6 linked regions of the Homo sapiens genome follow. The protein of the gene in region 1 purifies or fractionates together with the protein of each later gene. This does not show direct contact. Each region holds a gene or a part of one and is shown on either strand. Other genes may lie near its edges.

What was found.
Region 2: the proteins of ARHGEF15 (region 1) and MSN purify together in Homo sapiens (affinity purification with mass spectrometry, with the first as the bait; one large-scale study listed by BioGRID). This does not show direct contact.
Region 3: the proteins of ARHGEF15 (region 1) and CCNT1 purify together in Homo sapiens (affinity purification with mass spectrometry, with the first as the bait; one large-scale study listed by BioGRID). This does not show direct contact.
Region 4: the proteins of ARHGEF15 (region 1) and SUGT1 purify together in Homo sapiens (affinity purification with mass spectrometry, with the first as the bait; one large-scale study listed by BioGRID). This does not show direct contact.
Region 5: the proteins of ARHGEF15 (region 1) and DDX42 purify together in Homo sapiens (affinity purification with mass spectrometry, with the first as the bait; one large-scale study listed by BioGRID). This does not show direct contact.
Region 6: the proteins of ARHGEF15 (region 1) and UBAP2L purify together in Homo sapiens (affinity purification with mass spectrometry, with the first as the bait; one large-scale study listed by BioGRID). This does not show direct contact.

What each region holds. Positions count from the first base shown.
Region 1 is NC_000017.11:8,316,741-8,320,240, reverse strand, and holds part of ARHGEF15 (rho guanine nucleotide exchange factor 15), read right to left. Parts: intron 1,900-3,500; coding exon of another isoform or gene 1,855-1,899; coding exon 1,780-1,854; intron 1,672-1,779; coding exon 1,579-1,671; intron 1,492-1,578; coding exon 1,331-1,491; intron 1,235-1,330; coding exon 1,082-1,234; intron 930-1,081; coding exon 847-929; intron 743-846; coding exon 638-742; intron 1-637. UniProt on the Homo sapiens protein: Specific GEF for RhoA activation. Does not activate RAC1 or CDC42. Regulates vascular smooth muscle contractility. Negatively regulates excitatory synapse development by suppressing the synapse-promoting activity of EPHB2.
Region 2 is NC_000023.11:65,712,654-65,716,153, forward strand, and holds part of MSN (moesin), read left to right. Parts: intron 1-3,500. UniProt on the Homo sapiens protein: Ezrin-radixin-moesin (ERM) family protein that connects the actin cytoskeleton to the plasma membrane and thereby regulates the structure and function of specific domains of the cell cortex.
Region 3 is NC_000012.12:48,706,708-48,710,207, reverse strand, and holds part of CCNT1 (cyclin-T1), read left to right. Parts: intron 1-3,500. UniProt on the Homo sapiens protein: Regulatory subunit of the cyclin-dependent kinase pair (CDK9/cyclin-T1) complex, also called positive transcription elongation factor B (P-TEFb), which facilitates the transition from abortive to productive elongation by phosphorylating the CTD (C-terminal domain) of the large subunit of RNA polymerase II (RNA Pol II).
Region 4 is NC_000013.11:52,680,336-52,683,835, forward strand, and holds part of SUGT1 (protein SGT1 homolog), read left to right. Parts: intron 1-3,500. UniProt on the Homo sapiens protein: May play a role in ubiquitination and subsequent proteasomal degradation of target proteins.
Region 5 is NC_000017.11:63,808,670-63,812,169, forward strand, and holds part of DDX42 (ATP-dependent RNA helicase DDX42), read left to right. Parts: intron 1-150; coding exon 151-279; intron 280-890; coding exon 891-990; intron 991-1,843; coding exon 1,844-1,891; intron 1,892-2,406; coding exon 2,407-2,504; intron 2,505-3,262; coding exon 3,263-3,500. UniProt on the Homo sapiens protein: ATP-dependent RNA helicase that binds to partially double-stranded RNAs (dsRNAs) in order to unwind RNA secondary structures. Unwinding is promoted in the presence of single-strand binding proteins.
Region 6 is NC_000001.11:154,244,955-154,248,454, forward strand, and holds part of UBAP2L (ubiquitin-associated protein 2-like), read left to right. Parts: intron 1-1,249; coding exon 1,250-1,421; intron 1,422-3,500. UniProt on the Homo sapiens protein: Recruits the ubiquitination machinery to RNA polymerase II for polyubiquitination, removal and degradation, when the transcription-coupled nucleotide excision repair (TC-NER) machinery fails to resolve DNA damage.

The sequences.
Region 1 (3,500 bases):
TTACTTATCTATTTTGCTCATTCTTTATCGTCTGCCTCCTCTGCTAGAACGTAGCTCCAGCAAGGAAGGAAGTGTGATATATTTGATTCACAGTCCCTAGAACAGCGAGTGGCACTTTGTAGGTGCTTAATAAATATTTATTGAATGAATAAATGAAACACGGCCAGGCGCAGTGGCTCACGCCTGTAATCCCAGCACTTTGGGAGCCTGAGGCAGGAGGATCACTTGAGCTCGGGAGTTCAAGACCAGCCTGAGCAACATAGTGAGACCCCCCACCTCCATTAAAAAAAAAAAAGAATAGAAATAAGGCCTGGCACCAGAGGCTCATGCCTGTAATCCCAGCACTTTGGGAGGTGAAAGGGGACGGATCACCTGAGGTTAGTTCGAGACCAGCCTGGCCAACATGGTGAAACCCCATCTCTACTAAAAATACAAAAATTAGCCAGACGTGGTGGTGGGCACCTGTAATCTCAGCTACTTGGGAGGTTGAGGCAGGAGAATCCCTTGAACCCAGGAGGCAGAGGTTGCAGTGAGCCGAGCTCACACCACTGCACTCTAGCCTGGCTGACAGAATGAGACTCTGTCTCAAAAAATAATAATAATAAATACAAAATAAATAAATGAAAGACTTTCTCACCTTCAGGGGTCTTGTGCAGGTGTTTGGGGGCAGCCCTGGACTCCAGACTCCGTCCTTCAGTCTTGGCAGGTGCAGACGACTCTGAACACAGTTCCTGGGAACAGTCTGGTTGGGGGTGGGTGACATTAAAGTGATTCTGTTTAGCTTCTCCCCCATATTCCTCTAAGACTCGCTTTTTCTTCCCTCATCCCCTCTAGGGGGATACTCACCACAGTCCTCATAGATGGTGTCTGGGGAGCAGGGAAGGGGGCCTGGGGTTGGGAAGGCTCCCAGCCAGCGCTGCATGTCTGATCTGGTGGGGATATTGGGAAGTGTCACAGTTGGCCCAAAAGATCCTCTGGGGCTGAGGCAGGAGCCACAGAAGAGAGAGACTGGGGAAGTGGGGGAGGTCTGAGAGGTCAGATAAGTGTCCCAAGGTTGTTTTCTGAGGGAAACACAACTCACAGGGAAGAAGCTTGGAGTAGTCGGTGGGTGGGGCGGCCCTGGTGGTTGCTGAGAAGGGAGAGGCGGAAGGTAGGGGGTCCAGATGGATCCGGAACCTGCTGGGCCTGGACCAGGGAGCGATGGGCATAGTCCAGAACCTGTAACCGCTGCCCACTGCCCAGGGATGAGGTCGTTCAGAAGGACAGCAGGGGTCCCGCTGGACCCCTCCTGCCCACTCCAGCCTGGGCTCCTTCCTTCCCTAGGACTCACCTCTTAGGCTGAGTGATGAGCAGCAGGTCGCTAAAGAGCAGCAGGCAAAGAGGGGTGAAGCGGGGGCGCGAGGCAAAGAGCACGCCCCCCCTCCGGCACCCTAACTCAGTCAGCTCTCCCTGGAATTCCAGGCGCCGTGACCAGGAGACCAGGGGCAGGGCCTGCGAGGAAGCGGAGGCAGAGGAGGTTCTAGCGTGGCAGCAGCAACATGGGGCAGGGCAAGATGGGGAGCCTGGGCAGCGATGTACCTTGACTTTGTGGAAGCGCAGCCTTTGGGTGAGCCGGATCAGCTCTTCAGTCTGCTTCATGCGCCCCACCTCAGCGCTGCAACGCTCGATGATCTAGGTAAGGGGAGCTGTGTCACCACCCCAGCGGCCAGCCCCCTGCTCCCTACCATTTCTCTCTACCACCTTGTCACCTCCCCCTGCTTCAGCTTCCCCACTGCCCACCTTGCTGACAGCACCCAGGGCCTTCTGGGCATTCTCCTGACGGCTGGACCCCTCTTCTGTCTGGCGCAGGATATTCTGGGGACAAGGAGGAAGGGTGACTGGGCCCCCTGCTCTGTGGCCCTGGGATTCAGAGGGGCCACAGCTCAGAGGACCCTGTCTGTTTCAGCCAGTTTCAACAAGGCTGACAGACCTCATCACTCACCATCTGCAGAACCCTGAGCAAGTCCTGTTACCTCTCTGAGCCTCAGCTTCCCTATCTGTAAAATGGGGCTAATACCCACCTAGCATATCAATAGCATTGTTTTGAGGATTCAAGAAGGCAATATATGTAAAGTGCTTAGCATAGTTCTTGGCACATATTAAATGTTGAAAAGAAGGTTCTTATTTTTTTTTCTTCCGGAGTCTGGCTCTGTCACCCAGGCTGGAGTGCAGGGGTGCGATCTCGGCTCACTGCAACCTCTGCCTCCCGGGTTCAAGTGATTCTCCTGCCTCAGCCTCCCAAGTAGCTGGGATTACAGACGTGTGCCACCACGCCCGACTAATTTTTTTGTATTTTTAGTAGAAGCGGGGTTTCACCATGTTGGCCAGGCTGGTCTTGAACTCCTGACCTCAGATGATCCACCCGCCTCGGCCTCCCAAAGTGCTGGGATTACAGGCATGAGCCACCGTGCCTGCCCCGAAGGTTCCTATTATTTTAATAATTATTAACCAAAACTGTTAGTGCAGGCAATATAGCAGAGTAGCTAAGAGTGCTTAGATTACAATTTTGTCTCCATCAATTATTTCTGTATGACCTGAGGCAAGTTATGTGACCTGTGCCTTAGCTTTCTCATGTCTAAAGTAGGACAAGTAATAGTTCCTACCCTCACATAGTTGCAGGTAAGGTTACACAGGTGTATAGCACTTAGAACCATTCCTAGAAAGCTTAATAGCTGTTGAGCTATTTTGATTAGTATCATTATTATTATTTTGTTGTCTACAATGGGGATAGATAAAGCTGAATAAGATCATAAAGACACTGATAATCTAGTTGGGAACTCTTCACATAAAGATCCCCTCATTCACTGGGCTCAGTAGCTCACACCTATAATGCTAGAGCTTTGAGAAGCTGAGATAGGAGGATTGCTTGAGGCCGGGAGTTCAAGACCAGCCTGGCCAACATAGTGAGACCCTGTCTCTATAAAAATAAAAATTAATAAATAGCCGGGCATGGTGGCATTGTAGTCCCAGCTACTCTAGAGGCTGAGGCACAAGGATCCCTTGAGCCCAGGAATTTGAGGCTGCAGTGAGCCGTGATCGTGCCAGTGCTCTAAAGATCCCCATATTGGGAGACCTGGTTAGAAAGGACTCTCTGCTTTGCTATAGAAGAGAGTGTCTTAGGCCGGGTGCAGTGGCTCACGCCTGTAATGCCAGCACTTTGGGTGACTGAGGCAGGTGGACTACATGAGGTCAGGAGTTCGATAGCAGCCTGGCCAACATGGTGAAACCCCATCTCTACTAATAATACAAAAATTAGCCAGGCATGGTAGTCCACACCTGTAATCCCAGCTACTCAGGAGGCTGAGGCAGGAGAATCGCTTGAACCCGGGAGGCAGAGGTTGCAGTGAGCCGATATTGCGCCACTGTACTCCAGCCTGGGAGTGAGACTCCGTCTCGAAGAAGGAGATGGAGAAGAGGAGGAGGAGGAGGAAGAAAGTGTCTCAAATCTCAAACTTTTTTTT
Region 2 (3,500 bases), on another chromosome or scaffold:
TGTATACATTTTACAAAGTTGAGCTCACGGACTCTATGAAATACTGTTTACATTTCCTCAATATTACTAAAGTGTCTTCCGTGAGCATGAAATAGTCTTCATAAAGATTTTGTATGACCATATAAGAAGCCATTTTGTGGCTGTACTATATACATTATTTAAGCAAAATATCTAACAACTAAAAATCAATCTTTTTTTTCTTTTAATGGGAGACTTTTGTACTCTGTAAGAGGAATTTAGCATATTGGTTTACATTGTGAGGTTTGGATTTAGACCTGGATTCAAACCCTGTCTCCCCTGCTTAATAGCAATGTGACTTTAGACAAATACCTATTTCTTTATCTCCAATGTGGAGATAATACTCTACTTCACAGGGTGATTATTGATATTAAATGAGGTAGTACATATGAAGTGCCTGGTGAGTAGCAAGTCTTGATACAGGAAAGCTGCTGCCTGTTACTATTACTACTGCTACCATTACTACTGAGTTTTCAGCCAAAGGACTAAATCTCTAATTATGAAATTTCAGCTATCATTGACCTAGCTTCGAGGATCTATTTGTAAAGGTGGTATTTTTTCTAGTGCCCGTGAAATCATGTGTGTGGCTGTCTCTTATTTTGGTCTGGGCCTGTTTCTGCACCTTTGTCCTCCCACTGAGTTGGCTTTGGTAGCCCCTCTATGCCACCCATACCCACCTCTACTGAGGCCCCCTTCCCCTCTTGAGCCTAAGGAAGCCAATGAGACATAAATATAGGAAGCATTAGCAATGCAAGGCAGTATATAGAACCACCGACATCAGCACTGAAATGGTCTTTGGACCATTTATCTAGTTTAATTGGCTGCCCTCCATCCCATTCCTGCCTTTGCACAGGTAAGGGAAACTAAGGCCCAGGAAAAGGACAGGAGTTATCCAAGGTTGTAGATTTGACCAGCTACATGCTAGGCTTGGAATCCAGTGTTCTTCTTTGTTTTTAATTTTTATTTTAAGTTCAGGGGTACATGTGCAGGTTTGTCATAAGGTAAACTCATGTCATGGGGGTTCATTGTACAGATCATTTTATCACCCAGGTATTAAGCCTAGTACCCATTAGTTATTAAAATATTTTTTCCTGATCATCTCCCTCCTCCCACCCTCCACCTTCTATGTGTCTGTGTGTTCTCATCATTTAATTCCCACTTATAAGTGAGAACATGTGGTATTCTACAACCTCTGCCTCCCGGGTTAAAGCGATTCTCGTGCCTCAGCCACCAAAGTAGCTGGGATTACAGGTGTGCACCACCTTGCCTGGCTAATTTTTGTGTTTTTAGTAGAGATGGGGTTTCGCTATATTGTCCAGGCTGGTCTTGAACTCCTGGCCTCAAGGGATGCGTCCATCTTGGCCTCCCAAAGTGCTGGGATTACAGGTGTGAGCTACCATGCCCAGTCTGGCATTTGATTTTCTGTTCCTGCATTAGTTTGCTAAGGATAATGACCTCCACTCCATTCATGTTCCTGCAAAGGACATGATCTTGTTGTTTTTTATGGCTGCATACTAACATACATTTTCTTTATCCAGTCTACCATTGACTGGCATTTAGGTTGATTCCATGTCATTGCTATTGTGAATAGTGCTTCAATGCACATGCGCGTTTATGTATTTTTATGATAGAATGATTTATATTCCTTTGGATATATACCCCATAATGATATTGCTGGGTTGAATGGTAGTTTTGTTTTCAGGTCTTTGAGAAATTGCCACACTGTTTTCTACCATGGTTGAACTAATTTACACTCCCACCAACAGTGTATAAAGGTTCCCTTTTCTTTGCAATCTCACTAGCATCTGTTATTATTTTTTTTTGATTTTTTAATAATAGCTATTCTGACTTGTGTGAGATGGTATCTCATTGTGGTTTTGATTTGCATTTCTCTAATGATGTAAATTTTTTATATATGCTTCTTGGCCACATGTATGTCTTCTTTTGAAAAGTGTCTCTTCATATCCTTTGCTCACATTTTAATGGGGTTGTTTTTTTTCTTGTAAATTTGTTAAAGTTCCTTATAGATGCTGGATATTAGACCTTTGTAAGTTGCATAGTTTGCAAATATTTTCTCTGGTTCCGTAGGTTGCCTGTTAACTCGATAGTTTCTTTTGCTGTGCAGAAGCTCTTTAGTTTAGTTAGATCTCATTTGTCAATTTTTGCTTTTGTTGCAATTGCTTTTGGCGTCTTTGTTATGAAATCTTTGTCCATTCCTATGTTCAGAATGGTATTACGTAGGTTTTCTTTGAGGGTTTTTATAATTTTGAGTTTTACATTACTTTTACATTTAAGTCTTTAATACATATAGAGTTGATTTTTATATGTGAGATAAGGATGGGGTCCAGTTTCAATCTTCTACATATGGCTAACCAGTTATCCCAGCACTGTTTATTGAATTGGGAGTCCTTTTTCCATTGCTTGTTTTTGTCGACTTTGTCAAAGATCAGATGGTTGTAGGTGTGTGGCCTTATTTCTGGGCTCTCTATTCTGCTCCATTGGTCTCTGTGTCTGTTTTTGTACCAGTACAATGCTGTTTTGGTTACTGGAGCCCTCTAGTATCATTTGAAGTTGGGTAGCATGATGCCTCCAGCTTTGTTCTTTTTGCTTAGGATTGCCATGGTTATTCAGGCTGTTTTTTTGTTTCCATATGAATTTTAAAATAGTTTTTCCTAGTTCTGTGAAGAATGTCATTGGTAGTTTGATAGGAATAGCATTGAGTCTATTCTATGAATTGCTTTGGGCAGTATCACCATTTTAACAATATTGATTCTTCCTATTCATGAGCATGGACTGTTTCTCCATTTGTTTGTGTCATATCTGATTTCTTTGAGCAGTGATTTGTAGTTCTTCTTGTAGAGATCTTTCGCTTCCCTAGTTAACAGTATTCCTAGATATTTATTCTTTTGTGGCAGTTCTGAATGGGATTGCCTTCCTGATTTGGCTCTTGGCTTGACTGTTGTTGGTGTATACGAATGCTAGTGACTTTTGTATGTTGATTTTTGTACACTGAGACTTTGCTGAAGTTATTTATCAGATTAAGGAGCTTTTGGGCCGAGACTATTGGATTTTCTAGATATAGGATCATGTCATCTGCAAACAAGGATAGTTTGACTTCCTCTCCTCTTGCTTGGTTGCCCTCTATTTCTTTCTCTGGTCTGATTGCTCTGGCCAGGACTTCTAATACTATGTTGAATATGAGTGGTGAGAGAGGGCATTCTTGTCTTGTGTCGGTTTTAAAAGGGAATGCTTCCAGCTTTGGCGCATTCAGTATGATGTTGGTTGTGGCTTTATCAGATGGCTCTTATTATTTTGAGGTATGCTCCTTCAATACCTAGTTTATTGAGAACTTTTAACATGAAGGGGTGTTAGATTTTATTGAAAGCTTTTTCTGCCCTTTAGATTATCATGTGGAACCCAGTGCTCTTTGTCCTGATATTAATTTGCCTCTGCAATTGTTTACCAGTGCTATAGATAATCCA
Region 3 (3,500 bases), on another chromosome or scaffold:
TTACAAAGGTATTAGAGGCTGGGCGTGTTGACTCAGGCCTGTAATCCTAGCACTTTGGGAGGCCGAGTTGGGTGGATCATTTGAGGTCAGGAGTTCGAAAACATCCTGGCCAACATGGTGAAACCCCGTCTCTATTAAAAACACAAAAATCAGCCGGGCATGGTGGCGTGCACCTGTAGTCCCAGCTACTCACTTGGGAGGCTGAGGCAGAATTGCTTGAACCCGGGAGGTGGAGGTTGCAGTGAGCTGAGATCGTGCCGTTGCACTCCAGCTTGGGTGACAGAGTGAGACTCCATCTCAAAAAAAAAAAAATGAAGAAACCCAAAGATATTATAATAAATTCCCATGGTAAAAATTAAGACAGTACAGAAATGTATGTGGAAAGTGAAAACTACTCTGTAATCCCACCCAGAGATAACCATTGATAAATGTTTGGTTTATAGTGACCCAGACATTTTTCTGTGCACATAAACTAGCATTGAGGTATTTTTATTTAAAAAATCATATCTTGCTATGCTACTGTTGCACAGCTTGCCTTTATCATGTAACAGTATGTATTGGACATCTTTCCATACTTCCCTTTATTATTTTTTGGATTTCTTATTATTTTAATTTGCCACATGGTATTTGTGTAGTTACTGTAGTTTATTTAACCAGCTTTTTATTGATAGCTATTTGGGTTGTTGTTCTAGTTTATTATATTGTACATTATGTTTCATGGGATAGTCTTGTACATATATAGTGCACTTATATAAGCATTTTAATACAAGTTCCTATAGGTGGAATTGCTGTGCCCAGAGTATACAATGTATAAAAATTTTTGTAGTGTCAGTTTGCCCTACTGAAAGATTATACATTGTTTCCAGCACTGTAGGTGAGGGTCCTTTTCTTTCCACCCTAACAAACAACAAATATTAATTACCTCAAGAAACATTTATCTAGTTCTTTGTTTTTGAAACGGAGTCCCCTCTGTTGCCCAGGAGTGCAGTGGTGCCATAATTTAGTTTAGTTTTATTTTGGTTTTATTAGTTTATGCCATACTTTTAGTTTCTAATAGGCTTAAAACCTTAGTCTTTGACTTGTCCTTTTCCCCTTTGTTCAGTTAGTTATAGTCCCCCCCAACCCCAAGATAGGTTTTTACTCTGTCACCTAGGCTAGGCTGGAGTGCAGTGGTACAATCATAGCTCACTGCAGCCTCCATGTCCTGGGCTCAAGTGATCCTTCCACCTTACCAAGACTACAGTGCCACCACGCCCAGTGAATTTTCCTTTTGATTTTTTGTAGAGATGAGGTCTTGCTATGTTGCTCAGGCTTGAGCTCAAGGGATCCTCCTGCCTTGGCCTCCCAAAGTGCTAGGATTATAGGCAAGAGTCTGCACCCAGCCTATAAAGTCTTGCTAATTTTATAATGTTACCATTTTTTCCCTCTCCTTATAAATATGTACTTTTTAAATTATCAAAAAATTGGAAGAGGACGGACAGGAAATAAAGAGATAATCCTGTTAACATTTTAGAGTATATCCCATTAGAATTTTTTCTTTGTATGCAAGTACATGTACATATATTTAGTGCAGCCCTATTAGTTTTACAAAGTGATGCCTGTGTTTCTTTTTTCCTTTATTTCTACTGCTAGTGTCTAAACTTTTTTTTTTTTCTTTTTTTGAGACAGAGTCTCGCTCTGTGGCCCAGGTTGGAGTGCAATGGCGTGATCTTGGCTCACTGCAACCCCCACCTCCTGGGTTCAAGCGATTCTCCTGCCTCAGCCTCCCAAGTAGCTGGGACCAAAGGCGTGTGCCACCACTCCTGGCTAATTTTTGTATTTTTAGTAGATATGGAGTTTTACCACGTTGTCCAGGCTGTTCTTGAACTCCTGACCTCAGGTGATCTGCCTGCCTTGGCCTCCCAAAGTGCTGGGATTACAGGCGTGAGCCACCACGCCCGGCCTACTCTAAACTTTTTAAAATTCTTTTTTCTATATTTTAAAATAATTTTTAAAAAACAGAGACAGGGTCTCATTGTGTTACGCAGGCTGATCTTGAACTTTGGGCTCAAGTGATTCTCCTGCTTTGGCCTCCCAAAGTGCTCTAAACTTTATGTCCTAATGCCTAAATTATTATTTAAGTTAACTTTTATTTTATTTTTTGAGACAGTATGGCTCTGTTGCCCAGGCTGGAGTACAGTGGCATGATCTTGGCTCACTTCAACCCCTGCCTTCTGGGTTCAGGCAATTCTCCCGAGTAGGTGGGACTACCCTACTACAAGACTCCTGAGTGGTGGTGTGTGCCACCACGCCCGGCTAATTTTTGTGTTTTTAGTAGAGACGGGGTTTCACCATGTTGGCCGGGCTGGTCTTGAATTCCTGACTTCAAGTGATCCGCTACCTCGGCCTCCCAAAGTGCTGGGATTACAGGCGTGAGCCACAACACCCAGCCTGAATTAACTTTTAATGTATCCCATCCTTTTCTCCTAGTTTTACCTACCATCAGATTACTCCTTCTAAATATTACTTTGTTTTAAAAATTTATTTTTATTAATTATCATGGGTACATAATAGTTATATACATTTATCATAAACATTTCTTAAACGATATTTTTCAAAATCTTTAGTGTCACTCTTGTTAAGAATCTTGGCTGGGTGAGGTGACTCACACCTGTAATCCTAGGACTTTGGGAGGCAGAGACAGAATTACTTGAGCCCAGGAGTTTGAGCAGCCTGGACAATGTAGGGAGACCCCATCTCTATTAAAAATAAAAATAAATTAACTGGGTGTGGTGGCGTGTGCCTGTGATCCCAGCTACTTCGAAGGCTGAGATGGGAATATCTCCTGAGCCCAGGAGGTTGAGTGGAACTGTGATTTTGACGCCACTGCACTGCAGCTGGGTGACAGAGTGAGATGCTGTCTCAAAAAAAAAAAAAAAAGAAAGAAAAAAAATCTAGTGTTCCACATCCGATTATCTAATGTATTTAACTACTCAGTTTAGTATTGAAAATGTGCTTTACGCCTAGATCACCATACCTTTGTTCATATCCATTTTTCTCTGATCCTGTTTTGTTTATCCTAAAGTCTGAGGAATATATATGTAGTATGCTTCATATTCATCTGAAACAAATGTGAAGGAAAAGAATCACTGTGTTTACTTAAAACAGTTTTTTCCGTATGTGTATGGAGATGGAGTCTCTCTCACTATGTTGCCCAGGCTGGTCTCGGACTCCTGGGCTCAAGTGATCCCCCGCCTCTGCTTCCCAAAGTGCTGAGATTATAGGCTTGAACCACTGTGTCTGGCCTAAAAAAATTTTGTTTTAAATTATTTTTGTCTCCTATGGTCTTGTCTGAAATCAATACTATGAGTTGAATTTGTGGAGAAAAACTTACTCTAGAAAAGTATAGCATAGGTGACATCAGGGTTACAAATAAGTATTAGAATATCAGTTCTAGTCAGTAAAATGAAATATATATTTAAATTCTGTAAAATTATTTATGTATTTCTTTGACTCCTGGT
Region 4 (3,500 bases), on another chromosome or scaffold:
AAGAGATGAGAAACAAGTGGTTTATCTTAAATAGGTATTTTTTATCAGTGAGTTAGATTGATATGGAGTCATCTCACTTGGATTTATCCCAGTAGCTGAGTGAACTTCTGTTGTTTCCCTTCTAGACTCATATGTAGCCTCAGTGTTAGAGATGAAGAATATAGATACGAAACTTTTCAGAATAGTGTTTGCAAGTAGAAGGTGCACGTTATTCATTGGTTTAACAACTCTCTTGATTAAGAAAATTCAGGCTTTTTGTCAGGGCAGCATAAATACCTAAATTAGACCTCAAAATTTTAGTAATAATTCGTCATTGTATATTTAGCTTGCAGTTGTAATCATGTGACTTTTATTAATACCAGTAGCTCTGGAAATATGACTCTTTTAAGACATATTTACAGTAGAAAGTTAAAATTAGTATTTTAATTTAATATTTAGTTAATGTGGTTGAGGCTTAGGTATTTCACACTTAAGAAATCTGTGGTAATTGGTCATGATTGTGCTTTTCACAGTTTATTTATTTAGAGACAAGGTCTCACTCTGTTGCCCAGGCTTGAGTACAGTGGCGTGATCTCGGCTCACTGCAGCCTCTGTCTGCCGGGCTCAAGTGATTTTCCTACCTCAGCCTCTGCAGTAGCTGGGACTATAGACATGCACCACCACGCCTGGCTACTTTATTTCTTGTAGAGGTGGGGTTGCGCCACGTTGCCCAGGCTGGTCTCGAACTCCTGGCTTCAAGCAATCTAGCCGCCTCAGCCTCCCAAAGTGCTGGGATTACAGGCGTGAGGCACCTCAACCAGCCTCACTATTGATTAAAAAATTTTTTTTCATCACTTTTGGGAGACTGAGGTGGGAGGATCACTTGAGCTAAAGATCTTGAGATTAGCCTGGGCAACATAGAGAGACCCTATCTCTACAAAAAAAAAAAAAAAATTAGCTAGGCCTGGTGGCATGTGTCTGTGGTCTTAGCTACTTGGGAAGGTGAGGTGGGAGGATCTCTTGAGCCTGGGTGGTCAAGGTTGCAGTGAGCTGTTTTTTTGTGCCACTGAACTACAGCCTGGGCAACAGAGACCCTGTCTCAAAAAAAAAAAAAAAGTCTTCATTAAACTTTTAGTTTTGAGATAATTGTAGATTGACATGCAATCCTAAGAAATGAGATTCTTTGTACCTTTTACAAAGTTTCCATTGATGGAAACATTTTGTCAAAACTATGCTACAACATCACAACCATGATACTGACAGTTAAGATAGGGAACCTTTAATCCCAGTGCTTTGGGAGTCTGAGGCCACAGGATCCCTTGAGGCTAGACCAGCCTGGACAATATGGTAAGTTCTGGTCTCTACAAGAAATTTAAAAGCTACCTTGGCATGATGTTGTGCCCCTGTCAGCTCAGGCGTCTGCGGCAAGAGTATTGTTTGAGCCCAGGAGTTCAAGGTTGCAGTGAGCTATGATCGTGCCACTACACTTAGCTTGGGCAGCAAAGTGAGACCCTATCTCTTTAAAAAAAAAAAAAAGAGAGAGAGAGAGATAGAACATTTTCATGGATTCCAAGGATCCCTTATGTTGCTATCTTATGGCCATACTAACCCCACCCCCACCCTTCCATGATCCCTGATGATCACAAATCTGGCAATCTTTGTCAGATATGTAGTTTACACATATTTTCTCCCAGTATGTAGTTTTCATTTTCTTAATAGGGTCTTTCATAGAACCAAAATATTTCATTTTGATTAAGTCTAATTTACCGCTTTTTATGGATCATGCTTTTAGTTTCAGGTCTTATTAACTCTTTGCCTAGTCCTAGATCTCAAAGACTCTCTCCTATTTAAAAAATAAATAAAAGTAATATTGTTTTACATATTACATTTATTTTTTATTTAGAGACAGGGTCTCATTCTGTCACCCAGGCTGAAGTACAGTGGCACAGTCACAGTTCACTGTAACCTCAAAGTCCTGGGCTCAAGTGATCCTTATGCCTCAGCCTCCCAAGTAGATGGGACTACACATCCATGCTGCCATGCCTGGCTAATTTTTAAAATTTTTTGTAGAGGTGGGGGTGTCTCCGTATTGCTTAGGGTGGTCTCGAACTTCTGACCTCAAGCAGTCCTTCGGCCTTGGCTTCCTGAAGTGCTAGAGTTACAGGCGTGAGCCACAGCACCTGGCCTACATATTACATTTAAGTCTGTGATGCATTTTGAATTTTTATGTCAAGTGTGAGATTTAACTTGAGGTTCCTTTTTGTGGGGTGGATAGTATGTTCGGGTGTTCTGGCACCTATCTTTTCTCATTGAATTGCTTTTGCACCTTTCTTAAAAATCAGTTGAGCGTATTTGTGTGAGTCTATTTCTAAGTTCCCCACTGTGTTAGATTGAGCTGTATGTGATCTATATGTATGTTCCTCTGTCAGTCCCACTGTCTTAAGCTGTAGCTGTTTAAGTCTGAAATTGGGCAGACTCATTCCTCCTACTTTATCCTTTATTTTCACAATTGTTTTTAGATATTCTAACTCATTTGTCTTTCCATGTAAATTTTAGAATAAAGTGATTATATATAATTTTGGTGTTCATTACTAGAATCTAGACATACAGTTAATTTTATGTTTATCTTGTATTCTGTGACATTGCTGGACTCAGTTCTAGGAGTATTTTTGGATAGATTGTCATTTTTTTAATGTGGACAATCATCTTCAAATATGGAGGTTTTATTTATCTGCAGATACGGAGAGTTTTATTTCTCCCTTTTCTATCTGTATGCCTTTTATCTCCTTTTCTTGCTATATTTCACTGGCTGCAACTTCCGCACTGTGTTGAATAAGAGTAGTGAGAGTGGACATCCTTGCCTTGTTTCCCATTTTAAGGGAAAAGTATCTGTTGTTTCATCATTAAGTATAATGTTAACTGTAAATTTTTGGTAGATGATCTTTGTCAAGTTATGAAAGTTCTGTTGTATTCCTATTTTTCTGAAATTTTTTTATCATTAACTTTCAATATTAACTTTTTGTCAGATGTTTTGTCTGTGTTGATTGATAGGATTATATGATTTTTCTTCCTTAGCCTGTTAATATGGTGATTTTATATGATTAATATGATTGATTTTCAAGTATTGAGACAGTCTTGCATGAGCCCTACTTTGTCATATAGTGTATCTCTTAATTCTATCTTCTAATGTTTTGTTATGGGTTATTGTGTCTATATTCATGAGGAATATGAGTCTAATTTTCTTTTTGTGCTATCTTTGGTTTGGCATCAGAGTAATACTTCATAAAATGAATTAGGAAGCATTGCATCCTCTTCTGTTTTTTAGAAGATATTGTGTATAATTGGTGTTAACTTTTCTTAAGTATTTGGTAGAACTCACCAGTGAAACGGTCTGGGCCTGGAGATTTCTTTATTAGGAGATTTACAGTTATGAATTTAGTTAACCTAAAAGTTTTTATAGGACTGTTCCAATTATCTATTTCATATGGGTGACTTGTGGTTTGTTTCTGATAAATTTATCC
Region 5 (3,500 bases), about 55 Mb from region 1:
ATACCTTTATGAATAAAATCGTGGTTTTAAAGTATGTTCTAGGTTTCGATTTTTTATGACATCACATTCTGTTTTTCAGAACTTCGTTTGGGTTGTGACAGGTATTTGTTAGTGTCACAGTTTGTTAATATATTATTCACAACTTTGTAGATCCATGCAGAATGTAAGCGGTTTGGAAAAGCATATAATCTTCGATCAGTGGCCGTATATGGAGGAGGGAGTATGTGGGAGCAGGCCAAGGCCCTTCAGGAGGGGGCAGAGATTGTTGTGTGTACCCCAGTAAGTATGCCTTGTGTTTAAATGGCTTCTCAGCCTCCCTCGGTATGGAAAACATGATTAGTTTTGCAGAGAATTTCCCCTAAAGTGTGGTAAAAGCAGGGTTGAAAATATACTGATGAACGGCAGGCTGTGGTTTTAATTTTGATTGGTGGCTAAATTAGCAGTTCAGTGAGAGTCTCTGTGACATATAGGCTAGTAGCTACAAATTCCCCTCTATGTCAAATAGTTTTTCTTATACTCTCCCACAAAATGATTGCCAAGTTCATCAAGAATCAGAAAGATACATATGGTCAGAATAGCCTAGAAGAGTGTAGTTTAAACATTGAAACCTGTCATTATGCTTTAAATCAGGTCACTTTAGAATGCCTCAAAAACTGCTTCTGGCCACTTTCCCACAGAATTTAAATCACAGTGTAAATGAAGATGCCGATTGAGTTTTCAAAATTTCTGTTCCTTTGAGCTAAGTAGTGCATAAGGTATGTGGCTGTTGGACCAGTATCTATTACAGTCTGAGACTAGAGAATTAGCACTTTTGCCAGGAGTGCAACTGCTTAGAAAGTCCCTGTGAATGCCTTTAATTATACTTACTGTTCATTTTGTTGATCTTATAGGGTCGACTGATAGATCATGTGAAAAAGAAAGCTACCAATCTTCAAAGAGTCTCTTACCTTGTGTTTGATGAAGCAGATCGAATGTTTGACATGGGATTTGGTATGCCTTGAATACCAGTTTCTTCTGTCCCCATCCTCATGATACTAGTTTTTTTTCCATGTCTTTCTAGACTGTTTTTTCAGCATGAGAGAAGCTAAAAATACTCCTGGATGGGGTTAGACTATAGAAATATAGCTAAGATGAACATTTTTAGGAGTTTTCTCTGGAAAAGTATGTTAGGTTTTATTGGGTTGAGGAAATTTCAAAGTGCCTTTGTATATAAGGGGAATATTTTCTCTGTCTTCATTTTTATCCATATGCCTTTGATCATAGAGGTTAAGGTCTGTGTTCTTGGGTAGATGAATGTCAGATCATTCGAGGCCCTTTGCTTTCCTATCCTCGTAGCTGTCTTTACTGATTGGAACACTGCTAGACCTAGCCCAGTTGGATGGAGGGAAAATTTTTCACTTTTATGCTGAATGATATGTTTAGGAGCTTCTTTTTTCTTGAGACAGAGTTTTGCTTTTGTTGCCCAGGCTGCAGTGCAGCGGTGCGATCTCACTGCAACTTCCTCCTTCCAGTTTCAAGCGATTCTTCTGCCTCAGCCTCCTGAGTAGTTGGGGTGATAGGCACCTACCCCACAGCCTGGCTATTTTTTTTTTTTTTTTTTTTTGGTATTTTTAGTAGAGATAGCTGTGTTGACCAGGCTGCGAACTCCTGACCTCAAGTGATCCGCCTGCTTCGGCCTCCGAAAGTGCTAGGATTACAGGCATGAGCCACTGTGCCTGGCCTGGGGTTTCTAATTTTCTTAATTCTTACAACTTCTTATGAAGACTTTTACTAATATGGCTTTTTCCAGGCTTCCCAAACTGTATTTCAGGTTATAATAATTTTATTGTTCTGTTTCTTGCAGAGTACCAAGTTCGATCCATAGCAAGTCATGTTCGTCCTGACAGGCAGAGTATGTATGAAGCACCTTTGTTAAACCAAATTTGTACTAAAAAGGGCACTTATTTATTTTATAAGCACTCAGAGTTATGGAAGTAAAAATGATCTTGTGTCTGTTGGTGAGAACCATAATAAGGGAGGTAATGAGTTTATCTGAGCTGGACAGGATCTTAGCACTAGATATAACTTGTTCCTTTTTATAGATGATAAAACCAAGGATCAGAAATTAAATAAACTGCCCTAAATTATACAGTTTTATCAGTGGGTAGAAGCAGTGTACAGTACAGATCTGCTGATTTGAAATCAAGAGTCTTTTTCTGAACCATACTGACAACTTGTCTTAACTAAAAATGTAATAAAAATAGAATAAGAGCAAATCTTTCCCTAGTGAATCAGTTTCTAAACTAAATTTAAAGTTCAGGTGAGCTTATGTAAAAAAACTGAATAATCCTGAATGCCAAAGAAGCTTAATGGGTATGCATAAAGATATCATATTGTTTCTCTAACAGAATTTATCTTACCTTTTAGCTCTCTTATTTAGTGCAACTTTTCGGAAGAAGATTGAAAAGTTGGCCAGAGACATCCTGATCGACCCTATTCGAGTGGTGCAGGGAGATATTGGAGAGGTAACCCTAAGCAGGGCTGGATGGGACCTTAATGGGTTTATTTCTCATATTATGGAACACAGAATTAATTTCTCACTATTGAGATAAAAAAAAAAGATGTTATGTTTATAGATGCAACATGCTTGAGATTGGGTATTTTGCAAGTTGTGGGGATAGACGTAACAAGACTGGCAAAATGTTGGGAATCATTGAAGCTAGGTGATGGGTATGAGTTGATTTTGTTCATTTTGTGTTTTTTTTGTTTTATTGAATGTCTCAAAACTTACAATTGTTTTAAAAAGGCTTCAAAGAGACAAAAAGATGTGCCTGGAAGCATCAGCGTATTAGGTTGGAACTGACGTTTTAATTATTGTGGTAGGGGCCTACGCAGGAGGGAAAGGGTGACCTGGAAGGCCTGGAAAAAATCAGGTTTCATTTCTTACCTGTACATATGCGCTATGTGAAAAATTACTCTGAATTGGGACTTGGAATTCAGTTATGGCTGCTTAGAGAATCCTTCAGTTGCTTGCCATGGTTATTGTTAAGGAAAGCTCTACAAAGTAGTGGGGCATACAAATTAGGTATGTACACCAGGTGGAGAGCAAGGTGATTGGAAAGGAGAGGTGAGTTTTGAGCTGCACTTGACTTGCTGAAGGCCCAAGGAGAACTGGGATTGTTCAAGGTCTTCTCGATGCAGGTAGAAATATAATGCCTAGTCCTTGTTCAGGTGCCCTGTGGCTCCAATGTCACAATCATCTGTTTCATTTCTTCCTTCTCAGGCAAATGAAGATGTGACACAGATTGTGGAGATTCTCCATTCTGGACCTAGTAAATGGAACTGGCTTACCCGGCGTCTGGTAGAATTTACCTCTTCAGGGAGTGTCCTCCTCTTTGTTACTAAAAAAGCCAATGCTGAAGAGCTAGCGAATAACCTTAAACAGGAGGGTCATAATCTTGGGCTGCTCCATGGGGATATGGATCAGAGTGAGAGAAACAAGGTCATTTCAGACTTTAAGA
Region 6 (3,500 bases), on another chromosome or scaffold:
AGAGTCTCACTCTGTTGCCCAGGCTGGAGGGCAGTGGCACAATCTTGGCTCACTGCAACCTCCGCCTCCCAGGTTCAAGCGATTCTCCTGCCTCAGCCTCCCGAGTAGCTGGTATAGTAGGCACCCGCCACCACGCCAGGCTAAGTTTTGTATTTTTAGTAGGGTTTTACCATGTTGGCCAGGCTGGTCTCAAACTCCTGACTTCAAGTATCCGCCTGCTTTGGCCTCCCAAAGTGCCGAGTTACAGGTGTGAGCCACTGCATCCAGCCTTATCTGGTCTTTCTAGTGACCAACCCTCATCCTGAAACTATCTGGGGCCCCACCCTGGGCTACCTCATTAGCATTCAGGTATGGTTGAAAGAAGTGTGTTATGAGTAACAAAGGACACTATCACTTAGGAAATTCTAAATGTTTTAGGAGCTCCATGCCAGGAACAAGGCAAAGCTCAAGTATATATTATACCACAGGTAACTTTTGAAATTTTACGAAAATTGTGGGAAAAAATATCTCTCAGACTGCCCCTGTTCTAAAGCCATTTGAAGATTCCAGTGTTCTGGTATATGATTTTCTGTTTTAGGAATTGGTAATGACAGGTATTCAGTATTAAAATCATGGATAAGTACTTGTAAGTTTTGGCTGAGTTATTGAGCTGCCATGTTAAAACTAGCATTTGAGGCCGGGTGCGGTGCGGTGGCTAACGCCTGTAATCCCAGCACTTTGGGAGGCCAAGGCGGGCGGATCATGAGGTCAGGAGATTGAGACCATCCTGGCTAACACGTGAAACCCCTTCTCTATTAAAAATACAAAAAAAAAAAATTAGCCGGGCGTGGTGGCAGGCACCTGTAGTCCCAGCTACAGGCTGAGGCAGGAGAATGGCGTGAACCCAGGAGGCAGAGCTAGCAGTGAGCCAAGATTGCACCACTGCACTCCAGCCTGGGTGACAGAGCGAGACTTTCTCGAAACAAACAAACAAACAAAAACTAGCATTTGATATTTCATTAAATTAATAACTTCACTTAAAAAATTAACCATTATTATTGGCAACATCAGTGGAATTCAGCTATATACTGTAGTGACTCTTATGCATCAGTTATTTTGGGACATTTAAGCATTTCAAGGCTTTTGTGTTTGAACCCTTTTAGAAGAAGCCCCAGCAAGTGGCTTCATTTTGATCTAATCTGATTTGAGTGTTGGGGAATGTTAGCGTGTTCAGTCATTCTTCATGAAGATCCCTTCCCTTCCCCATTAGAATTGACCTTGCTGTTCTGCTGGGGAAGACACCATCTACAATGGAGAATGATTCATCTAATCTGGATCCGTCTCAGGCTCCTTCTCTGGCCCAGCCTCTGGTGTTCAGTAATTCGAAGCAGACTGCCATATCACAGCCTGCTTCAGGGAACACATTTTCTCATCACAGTATGGTGAGTAGGAAACGTGGTTTATCCTAATCAAACCTTCCTGCTAATCCTAGCACACATACACAGTTCCTTCCAAAGACAGTCAGGTTTTTGGCAGGTGAAGCATCCTCTTTGTCTTCTTAAGCAGACTTGGTTGTAGAAATGTTTGAGTTGGGTAATAGGGGGTAGCTCTAAGAGAGGACTTAGTTCTGGACAGACTGAATATTCTTATAAGAATAAGTTAACATTATTTATTGACTACTCATTGTGCTGAATGAACACCATTTGCCATTACTCTTGAGAGAAAATCAATGACATAAACTTGTCAATACATTTTAATCCTTTTGCAGCCCTCATTAAACTATGATGGGAGATTGTAGCAGTTCCCCATTTCTTGATGGATCAGAATTGTCTTGTATATTTACTTAAACCAGGTATTTGTAGACAAGGCCTCCAGAAACCTATGGTCTTCCCATTTCTGCCACTTACTAGCTGTGTCTCCATTTCTATGTAAATAGGGATAAAAGTGCTAGTCCTTCCCATCTTCCCAAAGGTGGCTATACAAGTGTGGTTTCAGTAGTGATATTATAAATAACTTAGAACTTATGACATATTACTTGTTGACTCAGAGCATTTAAAACATCCAAGGTCATTAACGACATCAAAGGAATCATTTAAACTAAACAAAGATGCTACAAGTACCAGTTTTCTCATAGTCATTGAGTCCTGAGAAGTACTGCTTTTTCTTTTTTTCTCTTTTTCTCTCCTATTTTTTGATGGAGGGATACTAAAGTTGTAAGCAGACCATGTGTGTGCATATAATTTTATTTTTCCAGTTAGAGTAATTAGTTTAACTAGAAAACTGCCAAGCTAGCTACTAATTCAGAACTCGGTCAGTTTTTAATTGTTGTCTTAAAATGTTTTTTGTGTGTGTTAAGTTAGTAATTTGGTGGTCGATGTCCTGCCACATAGGAAAGGTAACAGGTGAGAAGAGGTGGGAGGAGAAGGGAAATGGAGAGAAGTGTTGGGATTAAATAGAAAAAGAAGAAAGAAAATAGGACAAAGGTTGTAAGAAGGTGTAATGAAGATCAAGAAGTAACTACCAACCCTTAAAGATAAATGACTGGAAAATGTGATTATGTGATCTATGTCTCTTAATTGCCCTCTTAATGTCTGGAATTGTGAAAATTTACAACGAAATCAGACTTTTGATATCAAAAAGATGTTTTCAGCTGGGGACAGTGACACGTTCCTGTAGTCTCAGCTACTCTGGAGGCTGAAGTGGGAGGATTGCTTGAGACTAGGAGTTCAAGACTATAGTGAGCTTTGAGCTCACCACTGTACTCCAGCCTGGGTGACAGAATGAAACCCTTTCTCTAAAAAAAAATTTTTTTTAAATAAAAATGTGAAAACTAAGTATAAATACTATTCTGTTTTTTTGTTGCCTGTACTAATCAATATGTTAGATAATGTAATTTCCTTTCTATTGAGAATAAATGTTAGAGGATTAATTTCACTTAAAATTTAATAGAGCTAAATAACATGGGAGTTTCTTTATATTTTTATGTATAATACAGTGAACACTAGGTAATTTTAATTGTTTTTATTTTTTATTTATTTTTTATTTTTTTTTGAGACAGAGTTTCACTCTTGTTGCCTAGGCTGGAGTGCAATGGCGCGATCTTGGCTCACCGCAACCTCCACCTCCTGGGTTCAAGCAATTCTCCTGCCTCAGCCTCCTGAGTAGCTGGGGTTACAGGCGCCCGCCACCACGCTTGGCTAATTTTGTATTTTTAGCAGAGACAGGGTTTCACCATGTTGGTCAGGCTGGTTTAGGACTCCTGACCTAAGGTGAGCTGCCCGCCTCAGCCTCCCAAAGTGCTGGGATTACAGGCGTGAGCCACCGCATTCGGCCCAGTGATTACCCTATAGAACTTGTATGTACATGGAGAAAACAATCAAATCATACTGACTTGCTACTTGATTGTCTAGTGCAGAAGTTGGGATGCCCTTTAACTTTTCCTTTTTGCCTCTGTGCTAGTTATTAGCAGCATCGAGATGAGGCTCCAGTTAATTGTTGTTTCTTTTGAGTTTTTTTAATGA